2 linked regions of the Homo sapiens genome follow. The protein of the gene in region 1 purifies or fractionates together with the protein of each later gene. This does not show direct contact. Each region holds a gene or a part of one and is shown on either strand. Other genes may lie near its edges.

Region 1 (5,372 bases):
ATTTTTTTTATTTTTAGTAGAGACGGGGTTTCGCCATGTTGGCCAGGCTGATCTCGAACTCCTGACCTCAAGTGATCCACCTGCCTCGGCCTCCCAAAGTGCTGGGATTACAGGCATGAGCCACCGCGCCTAGCCACACATGTATTTCTTAATTTGTTATGAAATTCTATTAAGAGAATTACAGCATTTTATCAGAAATGTTCATCTTCATTAAACTTAACCTAATTAAACTCTTCAGAGAACGGAACTCAAAATCCTAAAGCTTGATCGTAGAAAAGTTTTTTTTTTAGAAAGCAGAGGATAGTAAAAGTTACACGTTATTAAGACTTTTCTGTTTTTACTCCTAACTGGCTATATTTAACTCTTTACAAAGCTAGCACATTGAAAATGTAATCCAAAGATTTCTTTCTGTCTTTTCCAGATACTTCCTTCCACACTGCATTATCCAAAACCCCTCCCTATCCAGAGGTCAGGCCATTGATTTAGAACAGAGTCCTAGAGTCTCCTTCAGCCGAGGTGCCCTTGTACACTGAACCTTGGGTTCTCAATTCTGATATCAAGTTGAAAGGAATCTATGAATAATGAGAGAAGGATTCTAATAAGATGAAAAGATAAGAGAAATCCAGGTTAATTAATTATGAAAAGGTACAGTATTTTAGAAAGAATGAAGAAAGGTGTGGAAATTAAGATTTTTAATTACGGCCTGATCTTTCTTCTCTTTTTTGCAATTTAAAAAATATGAACAACTGTAAGTTTTTAATTGTTGGAAGTTTTTTTTCCAGAATTGACTAAAGAAAAAAAGGAGATGAAAGGCATAAGCCATTAAAAAAATCTGCTTTTTCCCATGCTTTTTGAATAGTTGGTTCTGTATTTGTAGATCATTGCCAGATGCCCATAATATGGAACATCCTTATTCAAATGGTAATTTCTTGAAAGAGAATCTTGAAGTCAAGTTGATGCTGTCAACCTGTTTACCCTAAAAGATGAAATTCAAACATAAGAAAGGATAATCAGTAACAAATGTTTTTCTTTGTTGATGAACTGAAACTTCTACCTGCCTTCCTATCTCATTTCATTCATTGTAATGTCTGATAGCACAGTGTGACAGACTGAAGAATGCCACTTTTAGTCTGTCAGTGTTGTTAAATTAGACTTCGAGTTTTCATATGAGCTCATTCTCATAAAAGGAGAACTAAAACTATGAAATACATGCAGAGCCAAGAAAAGAAAAACATTACCCTGCTATTTTAACTAGTTCAAACACTGGAGAACAAATTTTACCAAATTGTTAACAGTGGCATGCAATAAGTAGAATGGATTATAAGACAGGAAAAGCATTCTCATGTGTTTAGAATTTAAGTCATGTACCATTCTCTGAGGAGAAATCAAGAAAAATAAGCTGTGAACATCTAACCAAATGATTATATGATTATATTCATATGATAATCACCCAGTACAGCACGGCCTGCTACAGAACTAGAAAGACATACATGAAACAGTTTATGCTCACTTTCTCCTTTTTTTTTTTTTTGTTTTCAGATGGCCACTCGCTCTGTCACCCAGGCTGGAGTGCAGTGGCGCTATCTTGGCTCACTGCAAGCTACACCTCCTGGGTTCACGCCATACTCCTGCCTCAGCCTCCTGAGTAGCTGGGACTACAGGCGCCCGCCACCACGACTGGCTAATTTTTTTCATTTTTTACTAGAGACGGGTTTTCACTGTGTTAGCCAGGATGGTCTCCAACTCCTGACCTCATGATCTGCCCACCTCGGCCTCCCAAAGTGCTGGGATTACAGGCGTGAGCCACCGTGCCCGGCCTACTTTCTCCTTATACATATAATTCTGAAAAGTACAAATTTCATTCTAACATGCATGTATCAGTTTACTTTTAGAGAAGTCTTATAAACATTCTATGTAATAATAACAATAACAAACACTTCTAAGCATTTATTTATTGAGATGGAGTCTCACTCTGTTGCCCAGGCTGGATTGCAGTGGTGCCATCTCGGCTCACTGCAACCTCCACCTCCTGGATTCAAGCGATTCTCCCGTCTCAGCCTCTCTAGTAGCTGGGACTACAAGTGCGTGCCACCACGCCTGGCTAATTTTTGTATTTTTTAGTAGAGACGGGGTTTCACCATATTGGACAGGCTGGTCTCGAACTCCTGACCTCGTGATCCACCCACCTTGGCCTCCCAAAGTGATGGGATTACAGGCATGAGCCACCGTGCCCAGACCTAAGCATTTATTATGGGCACTGCTCTAAGTGCCTGGCAAGGATTAAATTGTTTAATGCTCATAATGGCCCTTTGAAATAGGTATTATTATTATTATTATTATTATTATTATTATTTATTTATTTTTTTTTTTTGAGATGGAGTTTTGCTCTTGTTGCCCAGGCTGAAGTGCAATGATGCAGTCTCGGCTTACTGCAACCTTCACCTCCCGGGTTCAAGCGGTTCTCCTGCCTCAGCCTCCTGAGTAGCTACAATTACAGGTGCCTGCCACCATTCCCAGCTAATTTTTTTGTGTTTTTAGTAGAGACAGGGTTTCACCATTTTGGCCAGGCTGGTCTGGAACTCCTGACCTCAAGTGATCTACCCACCTCGGCCTCCCAAAGTGCTGAGATTACAGGTGTGAGCCACCACGCCCGTACGGTAGTAGTATTATTATCCCCATTTTACAGATTAAGAGAAATTAAGTAACTTCTTATGTGAGTTAATTACAAGACTATATAGCTCAGCCAGATACTATGGCTCATGCCTGTAATCCTAGCACTTTGAGAGGCCAAGGCAGAAGGATCCCTTGAGCTCAGGAATTTGAGACCAGCCTGGGAAACATAGTGAGACCCCATCTCTACAAACAAACAAACAAATAAATAAATAAATAAAATTTAAAAAGAAAATTAGCCGGGCATAGTGGCATGCCCCTGTAGTTCTAGCTACTTGGAAGGCTGAGGTGGGAGAACTGCTTCAGCCTGGGAGATAAAGGCGGCAGTGAGCCGTGATCCTGCCGCTGCACTCCACCCAACCTGGGCCACACAGAGCAAGACCTTGTCTCTGGCCGGGTGCGGTGGCTCACGCCTGTAATCCCAGCACTTTGGGAGGCCGAGGTGGGCAGATCACCTGAGGTCAGGAGTTCGAGACCAGCCTGACCAACATGGAGAAACCCCGTCTCTACTAAAAAAAATACAAAAAATTAGCCAGGCGTAGTGGTGCATGCCTGTAATCCCAGCTACTCGGGAGGCTGAGGCAGGAGAATCACTTGAACCTGGGAGGCGGAGGTTGCAGTGAGCCGAGATTGCGCCATTGCACTCCAGCCTAGGCGACAAGAACGAAACTCTGCCTCAAAAAAAAAAAAAAAGACCTTGTCTCAAAAACAAAAACAAAAACCAAGATCATACCTGAAGCAGTCTAATTTCAGAATCTGTTCACTAACCTGCACACAATTATTAATAAAGACATAGAACACACAGTATATTTTGCTATCATTTTGGCAGAATCAAACCCAGTTTCTTCATCATAGAATAGATTAGGTTAGAAAACACTTGAACTGGCCCATCACAGTGGCACATGCCTGTAATCCCTGCACTTCGGGAGGCTGAGGCGGGCGTATCACACTGAGCCAAGGTCGCGCCACTGCGCTCCAGCCTGGGCGACAGAGTGAGACCCAGTCTCAAAAAAAAAAAGAAAGAAAATACTTGAACTAAACTATACTGAGGGTGGGACTTCTCACATCTTTCCTCACTTCTTTGGTACTGGGATTTTGCTACTGCAGGCTTGGGTTTAAAACTTGCTTGTTTGAGGCTGGGCGCGGTGGCCAACGCCTGTAATCTCCGCATTTTGGGAGACCGAGGCGGGCAGATCATTTGAGGTCAGGAGTTCAAGACCAGCCTGGCCAACATGGTGAAACCCCATCTCTACTAAAAATGCAAAAATTAGCCAGGCATGGTGGCGGGCGCCTGTAATCCCAGCTACTGGGGAGGCTAAGGCAGGAGAATCTCCTGAACCTGGGAAGTGGAGGTTGCAGTGAGCCAAGATCATGCCATTGCACTACAGCCTGGGTGACAGAACGAGACTCTGTCTCAAAAAAAAAACAAAAAACAAACTTGTTTGTTTGCAATCGGCCACTGGGGGATGAAAGTGCCTGGATTACAACCTCACTGATCTGAACTGCTAGATTTCTGGTAGTCCCATAATGAGAGTAACATACTTTCTTTTTTATGTAATTAAGTTTTTGTTTTTTAAAATGAAAACAGACTTTTTCATTAGAAAAGTGAATCCCAGCCATCAGCTAGCTTTATTACTATTATCTAAAGACATAAACTAAAGCGAAGCAAAGGCAATCTATGTACTATTTATCTTTCTCAGTATTCCTTAATTATTAATAATTGTTTAAGTTAACCCTGGCTTTGCTAAGAATTGAGAATCTTTCATACCACTTACCACATTAGCTTCTCTGGGCTTTTGCTGTCTTGCTTGTAAAGAGAGAGAATTTAAGACTAAGATGATCTATAAAATTTTTTTTTTTTACCTCTAAAAAGCTTTTAACTTGATAGAATGTATCCACAGTCAGAAATCCTGAAATCCTTGAAGTGGTTTGCTTCTTGGTCTATGATGACTTCTCTATTGAAAGATCTCTGCTGTCTTTCAAGGGAAAGATCTCTTTTTGTTATCAGTTAGTAGCTATTGTATAAAGTTTTAAAGAGAGATATGGTGATTAAGAGCAAGTGTTTAAAGAGAGGCATGGTGATTTAGAGAGAGGTATTGTGATTAAGAGCAAGGATTCTGAAACCATACTGTATGGATTTAAATCACAGCTTTTCCACTTCCTAGCTGTGCAACCTTAGGTAAATTACTTAATCTTTCTGTGCTTTAGCTTCATCTGTAAAATGGGGATAGTAATACTGTCTTGTTGTGAGGATTAAATGAGTAAATATGAACTGCCTAGAATAGTAGCACTATTGGTTTATAACATGGGCTAAGTCTTTTCTAGCCTTTTATTTATTTATATAAATAATTTATATTTATACAAATAAATATTTTATTTATATAATTATAAAATAATTATTTTAACAATAATTATTAATATCACTAATTGTGATTTTTTTCCATCAATAGTGTACCGAGTAATTTTATTACATTGTTTTTTAAATCATTTGAGCTACTATTTTTGTTTTTTAACTTGAAACTAATTACCAATTTTATTCAGTTGTGAACACCAGCTTTTCCTTGATAATACACTTGACACATTTGAAACCAGAGTAAAGAGATGTAGAAATGTGTTATTTCTTCCTGGAAATAAAATGTATAGAGACGTTTCTTCATAATTTGAAAACAGTGACAGGTAGTAAGTCCTGACAGTGAAAAAAA
Region 2 (3,570 bases), on another chromosome or scaffold:
GACGCCATCTCACGCCTGCTGGAGGTGCGTGTGATCCCAGAGCAGGGTCTGGCCTGGCACCCCCCTCCTCTCGCTCAGACACCAGGGTCGTGCGTGTGTGTGTACACTCGTACATGCACGTAAGTCCGGTTACCCCTGGGGGTTGGTGTGGCCCTGCCGTCTCCCCACCATGTGAACTGCCTACTGGCCTGGGGTGGCTGTGGCTCCCCAGGGCCCCGCACCACTCAGTGGGTGCTTCCAGACAGTGACAGGAGGGCCGTCATCAGAGACCCTCAGGTCTCAGTACACAGCCTCCACTCTGAGCACGTGTGTTTTCCCTGACCTGGCTTTGAGCAGCTCAGGCACCTGTTGAGGAGTCAGCCCTTAGAGACGACAGTGTTTTACTCCCTCTGCCAGACCGCCTGCCCCACCTAACGTGAGCAGCTCTGGGTTCTTGCCCTGAGAGCTTGGGGTTGACATTGAGGCCTCTCTTACCCCTCACTGTGCCATCCCTGGTGGGCCTGGACTGAACAAGGCAGAGATGCCTGGGAGGGAGAAAGGAGACTGCGATTGGGTGGTGGCTGGGTTGGTGTGTAAGGCCTGAGGCAGTGTCCTGCGCGTGGTGCTACCTTTTGGGGCCATCCCGGAGTCTCTGTGGGACTGAGCAGGCAGAGGAGTGTGGACCTTGGACCTAGGCCACGGGGGGACCTGCACTCAGCTCCCCACTGTTGGCTGTGTGGCCTTAGAGGTTATCTTTTTTTTTTTATTTTGAGATGGAGTCTCGCTCTGTCGCCCAGGCTGGAGTGTAGTGGCGCGATCTCCGCTCACTGCAAGCTCCGTCTCCCGGGTTCACACCATTCTCCTGCCTCAGCCTCTCGAGTAGCTGGGACTACAGGTGCCCACCACCACGCCCAGCTAATTTTTTGTATTTTTAGTGGAGACGGGGTTTTACCGTGTTAGCCAGGATGGTCTCGATCTCCTGACCTCGTGATCCACCTGCCTCGGCCTCCCAAAGTGCTGGGATTACAGGCGTGAGCCACCGTGCCTGGCCTAGTTATCTAAGCATCTTAGAGCTTCTGGTTCCTTGTGCAGAAAGTGGAAATGCTGATTCCTGCCTTACAGGGAAGTTGTGAGGCTTAAATGAGTCATTTATTTCAGTGACTTAGCATGGGGCACAGGGTTTGGGGGAGTACGGGAGTCATGGTTTGTGATGGAGGTGACCCACAAAGCACAGACAGCAGTCCCTTTTTCTCTCTAGCGATGCTCATTGTCTTAAAGTTGACGCGGTCTCATTGGTGCTAACAGAGTCACTCAGCTTTGTCATGACCAGTGTCAGCTTGCTCTGTTGTTTTCTTGTATTTTTTACTGGTCTGTGTGTTTATGTTTAAGGTGAGTTTCTTGTACACAGAATGTAGATGTAGTTGGGTCTTCTTGTTATCCAGTCTAATGGGTTTTTTTAATTGGAATTTTTAGCCCATTTTAATTTACTGTTACTATTGATGTGGCTGGGTTTAAGTCTGTCATCTTGCTCTTTGTTTTCTCTTTGTCCCTTTGATTTTTTTTCCTTTCTTTCTTTTCTTTTTTTAAAAAACAAGTGTTTTTAGTATTCTGTCTACTGTGAGTTGAGCTGTACATCTCTGTGTTGTGTTTCAGGGGTTGCTGGGGGCTATAATCATCTGACTTGAAATTACATCACCCTGTTGACACCAGAAGAGCCTTACGGCAGTGTGTGTCCATTCATGCCTTTCCTGTCCTGTTACTGTCACACATTTTATTTTTACGTATGACATAAACACCCAGTATGGTTTTTTTTTTTTTTTTTTTTTTTTTTTTGAGAGATGGAGTCTCCCTCAGTCACCCAGGCTGGAGAGCGGTGGTGCGATCTCGGTTCACTGCAACCTCTGCCTCTGAGTTCAGGTGATTCTCCTGTCTCAGCCTCCCAAGTAGCTGGGATTAGAGGCACCCACCATCATGCCCGGCTAAATTTTTTTTGTATTTTTAGTAGAGACGGGGTTTCACTGTGTTGGCCAGGCTAGTCTCAAACTCCTGACCTCAGGTGATCCGCCCGCCTTGGCCTTGCAAAGTGCTGGGATTACAGGCGTGAGCCACCGTGCCCGGCCCTGTTTTTGTTTTAAATAGTCAACTTTGTTTTAAGGAAATTAAGAAAGAAGGAAAAAGTCTTCTATTTTTGCCATTTATAACATTCTTCATTCTTTCAGTATAATCTGGTCTGGTTATTATTTCTCTTCAGCCTGAAGAATTTTTAATATTTCTTGTAATGCAGAGCTGCCAGTCACAAATCCCCTCAGCTTTTGTTTATCTGAAAACATCTTGGTGCCTTTATTTTGCAAAGGGCATTTTCTCTGGATATGCATTTCTAGGTTGACAGCTGCTTCTTTTTTTTTTTTTTTTTTTTAATTCAGCAGTTAAACTGATGTCACTTTAAAAGATCTCATTACTAGGCTGGGCGCAGCGGCTCACGCCTGTCATCCCAGCACTTTGGGAGGCTGAGGCAGGTGGATAACCTGAGGTCAGGAGTTCGAGACCAGCCTGGCAAATATGGTGAAACCCCGTCTCTACTAAAATATAAAAATGAGCTGAGCATGGTGGCGGGTGCCTGTAATCCCAGCTACTCAGGAGGCTGAGGCAGGAGAATCGCTTCAACCCGGGAGGTGGAGGCTGCACTGAGCTGAGATCGCGCCACTGCACTGCAGCCTGGGCGACATGAGTGAGACTCTGCCTCAAAAAAAAAAAAAAAAAAGATATTACTTTGTTTTCTGGCCTGTATTGTTTCTGCTTAGAAGTTGGTGTTGATTCTTATCCTTATAAACTGTGTATAATGGCACCCTTTGATTCTCTGCCTTAAGATTTTGCATTTAATTTTGGCTTCAGCAATTTGACCATTGTGGTTTTTGCTTTCGTCCTGCTTGGGGCTCTTTAAACTTCTGGGTCTGTGGGATGATCATTTTTGTCAAATTTAATACATTTCAAGCCATTGCTTCTATAAATTACTTTTTCTGCATGATCTCTCCCTTTCCTTCTGGAACTTTATTGTCCCATACGTTGCTGAAGCTCTGTTTGTTTTTTCTCAGTCTTTATCTTTGCAATTCATTTTGGATGATTTCTGTTGGCTTGTCTTCAAGTTCACTACTCTTTTCTTTCTTGTTTTTAATATACTGAAGCCCATCAAATGAATTTTTTTTTAATTTCTTGAGACAGGGTCTTGCTCTGTTGCCCAGGCTGGAGTGCAGTGGCACAGTCATGGCTCACTGCAGCCCGAACCTCCCAGGCTCAAACAATCATCCTGCTTCATTCAGCCTCTTGAGTTGCCAAGACTACTGGCGTGGGCCACGTGCCGGCTACTTTTTTTTTTTTTTTTTTTTTTTTTTTGTAGAGATGGGGTCTCCCTATGTCACCCAGGCAGGTCTCAAACTCCTGGGCTCAAGCAGTCCTCTCACCTTGGCCTCCTAAAGTGCTGGGATTACAGGCATGAGCCACCACACCCGGCCCCATCTAATGAATTTAACGCTTTTTATTGTAGAGATTCCCCATCTGATAAACCATTATGTCCATCTTTTCTTTTAAATCTTG

What was found. The genes of interacting proteins can lie anywhere in the genome.
Region 2: the proteins of SPRYD7 (region 1) and SBF1 purify together in Homo sapiens (affinity purification with mass spectrometry; one large-scale study listed by BioGRID and IntAct). This does not show direct contact.

What each region holds. Positions count from the first base shown.
Region 1 is NC_000013.11:49,921,976-49,927,347, reverse strand, and holds part of SPRYD7 (SPRY domain-containing protein 7), read left to right. Parts: intron 1-5,372.
Region 2 is NC_000022.11:50,450,966-50,454,535, reverse strand, and holds part of SBF1 (myotubularin-related protein 5), read left to right. Parts: coding exon 1-24; intron 25-3,570. UniProt on the Homo sapiens protein: Acts as an adapter for the phosphatase MTMR2 to regulate MTMR2 catalytic activity and subcellular location. Promotes the exchange of GDP to GTP, converting inactive GDP-bound Rab proteins into their active GTP-bound form.